2 separate regions of the Homo sapiens genome follow, and region 2 is linked to region 1. A link means that fine-mapping ties the variant in region 1 to the expression of a gene that starts in the linked region. Tissue or cell type: putamen. Region 1 holds a variant in brackets; the other region holds the start of a gene. All regions are shown on one strand. Distances are between the middles of the regions.

Region 1 (5,145 bases):
TTTCGGCCAGGTGCGGTGGCTCATGCCTGTAATCCCAGCACTTTGGGAGGCTGAGGTGGGTGGATCACCTGAGGTAAGGAGTTTGAGACCAGACTGACAAATATGGTGAAACCCTGTCTCTACTAAAAATACAAAAATTAGCCTGGCTTAGTGGCGGGCAACTGTAATCCTAGCTACTCAGGAGGCTGAGACAGGAGAATTGCTTGAACCCGGGAGGTGGAGGTTGCAATGAGTCAAGATCGAGCCACTGCACTCCAGCCTGGGCGACACAGTGAGACTGTCTTGACTAACTAAATAAGATATTTAGTTGTTTGTTACTTGGGGGACCACAGAGGAAGTTGCTGGTGATTCCCCCACGTTATTTTCCAAAATCTTAGTAAAGTGCCACGGAGAACCACAGTGGGAAGAAGTCGGCCCAGGCTCCATCTGGTGCACGGGGCAGAGGCATCCCTCAGTCACAGGAGGCATCCCTCCCGAGGCTCCTCGACCCCAAAGACTATTTTCAGGAACCCTTTGTAACATGGCTCTTATTTTTATACATCAATGTTTTCCTAAAATGGAAGCCAAAGGCACAGCATCAGATCTAACCAAACCACTGACCTTTTTAGGGTCATCACATGTGCCAATTTCACCTACTTCTCATATCTTCCTATTTTCAAAGCTCCCCTCACCCTCAAGGCATAGTCTGGCAGTGGCGGCTCAGCACAGCAAGGATTATGCTATAGGCTCTGCAGGGTGCAGGCCTGCGCCCAATCGCCAGCCTCACCATTTCTCAACTGGCCAGTTTGCAACTTCCGCAGGTGATCTCAGCTCTCCACGTGCCCACCTCTTCACCTGTAATATGGCCACTAAGGCAGCATCTTATTGGGTTACTAGGCCCCCCTGGAGCACTCAGCCTGGCCCAGCCAATCAGCTGCCTTCACCTCCTCTAGACCTCCGGGCTTTGCTCAGAGCCTGGCAGTGCCTCAGAGACACCCCCTGAATGTGTCCGGAATATAACACTTTACTATGAGAACTCAGCCTATGCCCTTCCTGGGGGATTGCAGGGAGCAAAGCCAGGTGTTATGACTTTCCAGATGATATGGAACCCAAAGACGGGCTTCTGCTGAGGCCTTGGTGTACCCTCAGTGCTCCATGATGACACCCACCCTGAGGGCCAGGAAGGCTCCAGTGCTGGGTGAGAAGTCACCTACCTTGATGATGACGCGCTGGTCTGACTGGTCCTCCAGGATGCTGTCCGTGGGGTAGGACTCGATCTGCTGTCTGATGGCAGAGGCGATGGCTGGCACAAACGTCAGCGGGTTCAAATCCAGATCGTCACAGAGGATTTCTGAAAACATCTCAGGCGTCATCAACTTCTCTGAAATCAGGAGAGGGAAGGGATGCCAAGAGATTGCACCATGCTTGGGCATGGACCGGCCTCCCTCACCCCTTCTTCTTTGAAGCCAAACATCTCCGGATGCAGGAGAGGACAACCAGGGCACTGGGGGTGGCCTTCCTGGAAACTGGGAGTGGAAGGAGGAAGCACATGACTAGCAGGCCCCCAGCCCTCATCCTGCACAGACCTCCTGCTCCATGCCCTGGGGGTGGTCATGGCCATAAACACTTCCCTCATTCCACTCATAGCTGGGTGGGCGCATGAGATTATCCCAACTAATGAGATGATCCAGGCGAGGCCAGCAAAGGCACATCAAAGCTTGCGTGCCATCTCTCTACTCCCCTCTGTGCTGAACTGGTGGCAGACGTGATGGCACAGAGGCTGGCCCAATACCAGGCCTCATGTGAGCAAAACACACTGTGCCAAGCCACAGCGATTTCCAGGCCTGTGACTGCAGTAGCAGCAGCAGGGCCTCAACAAGGTCACAAGCGTGGAGGTCCCTACAGATCCCGGATCCTGGAAAAGGAATTGTACCAGATGGGAGCTCACAGGGACCATCTGTGGCCAGCCAGACCTCAGCAAGGTCCTCTCAGTCAACATTCTCTCCCTGCTCCACCCAGACC[G/T]TACTGACAAGACGCCTTGCAGGAATAAGCTGAAAAAGCCAAGAAAAATTGCCTCAGAGCAGACAGTAGGATTCCATCATCAAGAAGCAGGTCGGCCTAACAGACCACAGCCCCACTATCTCCTCCCTGCCCTAAAGACACGCTGGAGACCAGCATCCTAACAGCCTGCGGGGCAGCAACAGCAGGAACCTCAGGTGCACGGGGTAAACACCCAGTGAATACACTGCCCAGAGCATTTTAAAATTTTTAAGTAATTGTAGATTCATGTACAGATGCAAGAAACAACACAGAGAAATTCCATGCACACTGCGCCCAGTTTCCTCCAAAAAAGACAAGATAGAGGACTGTATCTGTATCCAGTGATTCATCCAGATTGTCACTTCCTTTTACTGCCAAGTGACATTCTGTGGTACGAAGGGGCCTCACTTTAACTATTCACTCACTGAAGGCTATCTAGATCATTTCCAGTTTCCCGCTATTATAAATAAAGCTGCTATGAACATCCACGTGTAGGCTATTGTATAAACATGTCTTCATTTCTCCAGGATAAATGCTCAAGGTACACTGGTTGCATGTTTAGTTTTTTGTTTGTTTTGAGACGGAGTCTCGCTCTGTCGCCCAGGATGGAGTGCAGTGGCGCTATATCGGCTCACTGCAAGCTCCGCCTCCCGGGTTCACGCCATTCTCCTGCTTCAGCCTCCCGAGTAGCTGGGACTACAAGCAGCCACCACCACGCCCAGCTAATTTTTTGTATTTTTAGAAGAGACAGGGTTTCACCATGTTAACCAGGATGGTCTCGATCTCCTGACCTCGTGATCCGCCCGCCTCGGCCTCCCAAAGTGCTGGGATTACAGGTGTGAGCCACCACGCCTGGCCGCATGTTTAGTTTTTAACAGAAATTGCCACACTGTTTTCTAGGGCAGTTTTCCAGCCACTTTACATTCCCATCAGCAGCTTGTGAGTGACCCAGTTCCTCCACATCCTCGCCAGCATCTGATGCTGTCACCACTTTTTAAAGATGTGGAATAACAGTGTAATTTTAATCTGCATTTCCCTAAGGCTAACAATGTGGAAAAGCTTTTCAATGTTTATTTGCCACCTATATAACTTCTTTAGTGAAATTTCTCTTCCTGTCTTTTGCCTTTTTTTTTTTTTTTTGAGACGGAGTTTTGCTCTTGTTGCCCAGGCTGGAGCGCAACGGCGTGATCTTGGCTCACAGCAACCTCGGCCTCCTGGGTTCAAGCAATTCTCCTGACTCAGCCTCCCAAGTAGCTGGAATTACAGGCATGCGCCACCATGCCCGGCTAATTTTGTATTTTTAGTAGAGACGAGGTTTCTCCACGTTGGTCAAGCTGGTCTCAAACTCCTGACCTCAGGTGATCCGCCCACCTCAGCCTCCCAAAGTGCTGGGATTACAGGCGTGAGCCACTGTGCCCAGCCTTTTTTGTTGTTGTTGCTTTTTTGGGACAGAGTTTCACTCTTGTTGCCCAGGATGGATTGCAACAGCGTGATCTCGGCTCACAGCAACCTCTGCCTTCCAGGTTCAAGCGATTCTCCTGCCTCACCCGCCCGAGTAGCTGGGGTTACAGGCATGCGCCACCACGCCCAGCTAATTGTGTATTTTTAGTAGAGACGAGGTTTCTCCATCTTGGTCAGGCTGGTCTCGAACTCGTGATCTCAGGTGATCTGCCCACCTCAGCCTCCCGAAGTGCTAGGATTACAGACGTAAGCCACTGTGCCAGCCTACTTGCCTATGATTGTCTAATTGCTCCAGTGCCATTTTGTTGAATGAGCTGTCTTTCCTCCATTGAATCACATTTGCATCTTTGTAAAAATCAGGAGGGCACGTTTGTGTGGGTCTGTTTCTGGATTCTCAATTCTGTTCCATCACGGTATGTCACTCCACCAATACCACACAGCCTTGATTATCGTAGCTATATAGTAAGCCTTGAGATTGGGTAGAATGATTACTCCCACTTTACTGTTTTTCAAAATTGCTGGCCGGGTGTGGTGGCTCATGCCTGTAATCCCAGCACTTTGGGAGGCTGAGACAGGCGGACTGCCTGAGCTCAGGAGTTTGAGACCAACCTGGCCAACATGGTAATACCCTGTCTCTACTAAAAATACAAAAATTAGCCAGGCATGGTGGCGGGCACCTGTAATCCCACCTACTCGGGAGACTAAGGCAGGAGAAACGCTTGAAACCGGAAGGTGGAGGTTACAGTGAGCAGAGATCATGCCACTGCACTCCAGCCTGGGCAAAAGAGCAAAACTCCATCTCAAAAAAAAATAATAATAATAATAAATAAATTGCTTTAGCTATTTTAGTTTCTTTGCCTTTCCATATAAATCTTAGAACCATCTTATCTACAAAAAAAATCTTGCTGGGATTTTCACAGAAATTGCATTAAATCTGTATATCAATTTGGGGAAAACTGACATCATCTTGAGTCTTTTAATCCATGAATATGATATGTCTACTTATTTAGGTCTTCCTTCATTACTTTCGTCAGTGTTTTATAGTTTTTGGTATATAAGTCCTGTAAATGTTTTGTTGGATTTATACCTAAGTATTCCTTTTTTTATTGAGTGATGATAAATGGTAATGTATTTTTAATTTGTGTCTAGGTACTCATTAATGGCATATAGAAATAAAATGGATTTCTGCATGTTTACCTTGTATCCCTTGTATCTTGTGACCCTGGGGAATTCAGTTATTAGTTCTCCAAGTTTTCTGTAGATCCCTTGGGATTTTCTACACGGACAATCATGTCATCTGCAAATAGGATTTTATTTCTTCCTTTCCAATCTACACGTCTTTTATTTCCTTTTCTCAGCTTACTGGATTAGCTAGAACTTCCAACACTATGTTGAATAAGAATAGTGACAGCAGACATATTTGGCTTGTTCCTGGTCTCTGGCAGAAAGCATGCAACCTTTCACTATTAAATGCTAGCAACAGAAGGCCAGGCTCTGTGGCTCACGCCTGTAATCCCAGCACTTTGGGAGGCCGAGGCGGGTGGATCACATGGTCAGGAGTTCGAGACATTCCTGGCTAACACTGTGAAACCCCGTCTCTACTAAAAATACAAAAAGTTAGCTGGGTGTGGTGGCAGGGCACCTGTAGTCCCAGCTATCAGGGAG
Region 2 (5,145 bases), 61 kb after region 1:
CCTTTAATCCCAGCACTTTGTGAGGCAAAGGCGAACAGATCATGAGGTCAGGAGATCGAGACCAGCCTGACCAACATGGTGAAACCGACCAACATGGTGAACCCCGTCTCTACTAAAAAAAAAAACAAAAAAAATTAGCCGGGCGTGGCAGTTCATGCCTGTAATCCCAGCTACTTGGGAGGCTGAGGCAGGAGAATCACTTGAACCTGGGAGGCGGAGGTTGCAGTGAGCTGAGATTGCACCATTGCACTCCAGCCTGGGCAACAAACAGCGAAACTCCGTCTCAAAAAAAAAAAAAAAAAGAAAAAGAAAAGATAGCTTGTTACTCAAAGTTCCCCTAAAACAGGGAGTACACCAAGGTGGGCCACACAGGAAGCACCACAGTTGATGGGCAGGCAGAGGGAGAGGGAGGAACTGTGGGCAAGGGCCTCTATTGTGGTTTCCAACGCTGGGCAGGCTTAGGACTGAATAATTAAAGTGGATTCTGGGGCATGGGCTGTCCCTAGTTGTCTGGTGCGTGGCCCTGGAGAGATTAGGGCAGGTGGAGTATAAGAGCAGATTAAGGAGGGAGTTGAGGGGGTTGGGATTAGTTGACTTGCATTTGAAAAGCGTGCTTTCAGAAGAGTTATTTACTATCATGGCTGGGTGAGGTGGCTCAAGCTTGTAATCCCAGCACTTTGAGAGCCCGAAGTAGGTGGACCATTTGACGTCAGGAGACCGAAATTATCTTGGCCAACATGGTGAAATCCCATTTCTACTAAAAATACAAAAAGAATTAGCTGGGCCTGGTGGCGCATGCCTGTAATCCCAGGTACTTGGGAGGCTGAGGCAGGAAAATCGCTTGAACCCGGGAGGCGGAGGTTGCAGTGAGTGGAGATGGTGCTTTTGTACTCCAGCCTGGGGGACAGAACGAGACTCTGTCTGATAAAAAAGAAAAAGAGTTGGCCAGGTGCAGTGGCTCACACCTGTAATCCCAGCACTTTGGGAGGCCAAGGTGGGCAGATGACAAGGTCAGGAGATTGAGACCATCCTGGCTAACACGGTGAAATCCCGTCTCTACTAAAAAATACAAAAAATTAGCCGGGCATGGTGGTGGGCGCCTGTCGTCCCAGCTACTCGGGAGGCTAAGGCAGGAGAATGGCGTCAACCCGGAGGCAGAGCTTGCAGTGAGCCAAGATCGCACCACTGCACTCCAGCCTGGGTGACAGAGTGAGACTCTGTCTCAAAAAAAAAAAAAAGAAAAAGAGTTATTTACTATCGGCTGGGCGCGGTGGCTAACACCTGTAATCCCAGCACTTTGGGAGGCCAAGGCGGGCAGATCACAAGGTCAGGAGATCGAGACCATCTTGGCTAACATGGTGAAACCCCATCTCTACTAAAAATATAAAAAATTTGCCAGGCGCAGTGGCGGGCACCTGTAGTCCCAGCTACTCGGGAGGCTGAGGCAGGAGAATGGCGTGAACCCAGGAGGCGGAGCTTGCATCGAGCCAAGATCGCGCCACTGCACACCAGCCTGGGCGACAGAGTGAGACTCCGTCTCAGAAAAAAAAAAAAAAGTTATTTACTATCTATAGGGACTGGGTAACCCTGGGAGGGTTAGTCCCTCAATGGTCAGCAAGGGCCCAGATTACACAGCACTGGAATACAGAAAATAAATGACATGGTTAATCCACCCACTGTGGCCAGCCCTGAGCAAATAGGTCCCATCTTTGCATTTTCACAATCCTCAGGCTGGCATTATGCTTAACTTTATGTTCCAGATGAGAAAACCGAGGCACAGTGGGGGGAAGTAACTTGGCTGAAGTCATGCAGTTAAGAAAAGCAGGAGCTGGGATTCAAACCCAAGTTCAAAACCACCTCAGCTACTTGGAATCCTGGCAAATTAAAGGTTGTGATAATGTCAAGGGCTGGCGAGGATGCGAAGTCACAGTAAACTCTCTTACTCTGCTGGTGGAAGACCAGATTGTTACAAACACATCAGGAACCCTGGCAGACCTAGTAAAGCTAAATGTATTCTTTCCTTGCCGTCTGGCAGCTCCATTCCTGGGTGTCTCTCCAGCACAAATGAGTGCACCAGTACACCAAAAGACATCGACAGAGACATTCACAGAAGTTGTATTTGTAATGGCCAAAGACTGGAGAGCATCCAAATATCTAACAATAGGAGAATGGAAAACCTGATTACAGTGCATTCACACAATGGATTACACACAGCTATGGGCATGAATGAAATATTGCTGCACACACATGGATCACTCCCATCATGTTCAACAAAAGAAGCAGGCACAAAAGAGGGCACACTATCATTCCACTTATAGTTAAAGTTCTAGAGCAGGCACAAACTAATCTAAGGTGATAGAAGTCAGAATGATGATTCCCTTGAGGGTGCATGTCATTAACTGAGGGGCCTTCAGGGGAGATGGAGGTGTTCTTTTTTCTTTTCTTTTTTTTGAGACATAGTCTCGCTCTGTCGCCCAAGCTGAAGTGCAGTGAAGCAATCTTGGCTTACTGCAACCTCCACCTCCCGGGTTCAAGCGATTTTCCTGCCTCAGCCTCTCCAGTAGTTGGGACTACAGGTGTGCACCACCACGCCCAGCTAATTTTTGTATTTTTAGTACAAAAAATATGGAGTTTCACCATGTTGGCCAAGCTGGTCTCAAACTCCTGACCTCAAGTGATCCACCTGCCTCCGTCTCCCAAAGTGCTGGGATTATAGGCGTAAGCCACCGCCCTCAGCCGAGATTTTCTAAATCCTGATCTGGGTGGAGGTTGCAGGGGTCTGTGTGTGCGTGTGTATGTGTGTGTGTGTGTGTGCGCGCGTGTGCGTGTGCGCGCACATGCATGCATGCATGCTTGTGGGCATACATACATATACATAAAATCATCAAGCTATGCACTTAAGATTTATGCACTTTACTGTATGCTAGTTGTACCTCAATAAAAAAGTAGATTTCCACCTGCTATAACTGCACATGAGGACTTCTGGGCTCCTATTCTTGGAAGGCCTTGTGGTGCCAGGACCCTGACATTTGGGAAGAAAAGGCTTGGCCATTGGGCCCCAGTCACCGCCCCTCCTTCCTCAGTCAATAGGCTGATTTGCATGCTCTGTTGTGGTCCAGTGGCCTTCCCAGCCCTGTGCCCCAAAGCACCTGGAGCATATAGCCTTGCAGAACTTCTACTTGCCTGCCTCCCTGCCTCTGGCCATGGCCTGCCGGTGCCTCAGCTTCCTTCTGATGGGGACCTTCCTGTCAGGTGAATCTTTCCTGGGCCTCAGTCACCTGGGTGTGGGGTGGGGAACAGTACTGGCCCCAGAAGGCCCCTGCAAGGAGGCAAATCGATGGGGACAGTAGGGCAGGTCCTGGGAGGGGTATTTTTTTTTTTTTTGAGACGGAGTTTTGCTCTTGTTGCCCAGGCTGGAGTGCAACGGTGCAATCTCGGCTCACTGCACCTCTGCCTCCCAGGTTCAAGCGATTCTTCTGCCTCAGCGTCCTGAGTAGCTGGGATTACAGGCATGCGCCACCACGCCTGGCTAATTTTGTATTTTTAGTAGAGACAAGGTTTCTTCATGTTGGTCAGGCTGGTCTCAAACTCCTGACCTCAGGTGATCCGCCCACCTCAGCTTCCCAAAGTGCTAGGATTACAGGCTTGAGCCACTGCACCTGGCTGGGAGGCGTATTCAGGTAGAGGGGTGACCTGGCTTCAGACAGCTCTGCCCTTGACCTGGGGCAAATCACTTCCCTGTGTGGGCCTTGGTTTTCTCATTCGTGAATGACCAGATCACTAGAGCCCTGGACTCTGACTTTGGGTCTCCTTCTTAGTTTTTCACAGGGGAAGCTATTGTGGGTTGGTCCCTACCCCACAGGGCCTGAGGCAATCTAACCTCCCTGAGAGGGTCCCTGCAGCCAGTTGCCTGAGGCTGAGTTGATGTGTGGGACAGCCCAGGAGGTTCCTGGGGGTGGTTAGTCTGTATTCAGGGTTTGGAAGAGCTGAAGTGAAGTGGGCGGGGAAGTGGGGGAGAGGGGTGCAGTTCTGCAGAGAAACGTGGGTGGGTAGCAGAGGGACCTAGAGGCTGCTAGTCCAACCTTCTGAGCTCTGGGCCTTTAACTGAACACAGATCCTTGAGGATATGGCACTAATGGAGATTTGGGGGCTAACTCCAAACCCCTCACTCACAAAGGGAGATGGAGGTCCAGATAGGGCACCCTAAGTCACACAGAACCAGGCCTCCTGCACCCCGTTCATTGCTAATCCCATAGCACTGGGCTATGAGCCCTTTGGGACTGGGAGTCTCCATGGAGTCCAACCAAGCCTTCACAGGGCAGGGGTGGGAGGGAAGGGGCTCAGGCTGAGTGGGTTTGTGTCTCGCAGTTTCCCAGACAGTCCTGGCCCAGCTGGATGCACTGCTGGTCTTCCCAGGCCAAGTGGCTCAACTCTCCTGCACGCTCAGCCCCCAGCACGTCACCATCAGGGACTACGGTGTGTCCTGGTACCAGCAGCGGGCAGGCAGTGCCCCTCGATATCTCCTCTACTACCGCTCGGAGGAGGATCACCACCGGCCTGCTGACATCCCCGATCGATTCTCGGCAGCCAAGGATGAGGCCCACAATGCCTGTGTCCTCACCATTAGTCCCGTGCAGCCTGAAGACGACGCGGATTACTACTGCTCTGTTGGCTACGGCTTTAGTCCCTAGGGGTGGGGTGTGAGATGGGTGCCTCCCCTCTGCCTCCCATTTCTGCCCCTGACCTTGGGTCCCTTTTAAACTTTCTCTGAGCCTTGCTTCCCCTCTGTAAAATGGGTTAATAATATTCAACATGTCAACAACAGCTATTGTGAGGGTCATAAGATCCTGGCTGAGAAAAATGACTGTGGTGGGTCTGGGAGTCGAAGACCCACTCCTGGGGTGGGGAGCAGTGTGCGGGGGAATGGGGATTCTGGGGACTGTTGTCAAAGAGGAAGCACCTGAGACTATTGGGGCATGGCCCAGACTCCCCCACCATGGCCCCCTGGGGGCTCAAACTGGTAGCCTGACCTTCCTGTGACCTGAGGAGCCGGAGGGAGAAAAAGGAACCAGCCCTTGCCGCCCCCAACTCTGCATGGCTGGTTATGGTCCAAGGGTTATGGCTCTAGGGTGGCTGGTCCCCATG

The links. PIP is the estimated chance that this variant, and not a neighbour inherited with it, causes the effect.
Region 2: it holds the start of VPREB3, and the variant in region 1 is fine-mapped to the expression of VPREB3 in putamen (GTEx, PIP above 0.99). The same link has a PIP of 0.9 or more in nucleus accumbens.

The regions. Positions count from the first base shown.
Region 1 is chr22:23,812,985-23,818,129 of GRCh38, reverse strand. It overlaps SMARCB1 (SWI/SNF related BAF chromatin remodeling complex subunit B1), which reads right to left. Exons shown (of 9, transcript NM_003073.5): 6 at 1,194-1,360. Among named protein-coding and RNA genes, the nearest start is that of DERL3, 23 kb to the left of the region's middle. RefSeq lists enhancers at 1,197-1,698, 1,699-2,200. The variant G/T (reference allele first, on the strand shown) is at 2,002.
Region 2 is chr22:23,752,422-23,757,566 of GRCh38, reverse strand. It overlaps VPREB3 (V-set pre-B cell surrogate light chain 3), which reads left to right and starts at 3,142. Exons shown (of 2, transcript NM_013378.3): 1 at 3,142-3,252; 2 at 4,369-4,824. The coding sequence starts at 3,204. The coding sequence ends at 4,691. RefSeq lists a silencer at 3,050-3,099 and enhancers at 2,719-3,219, 3,996-4,669.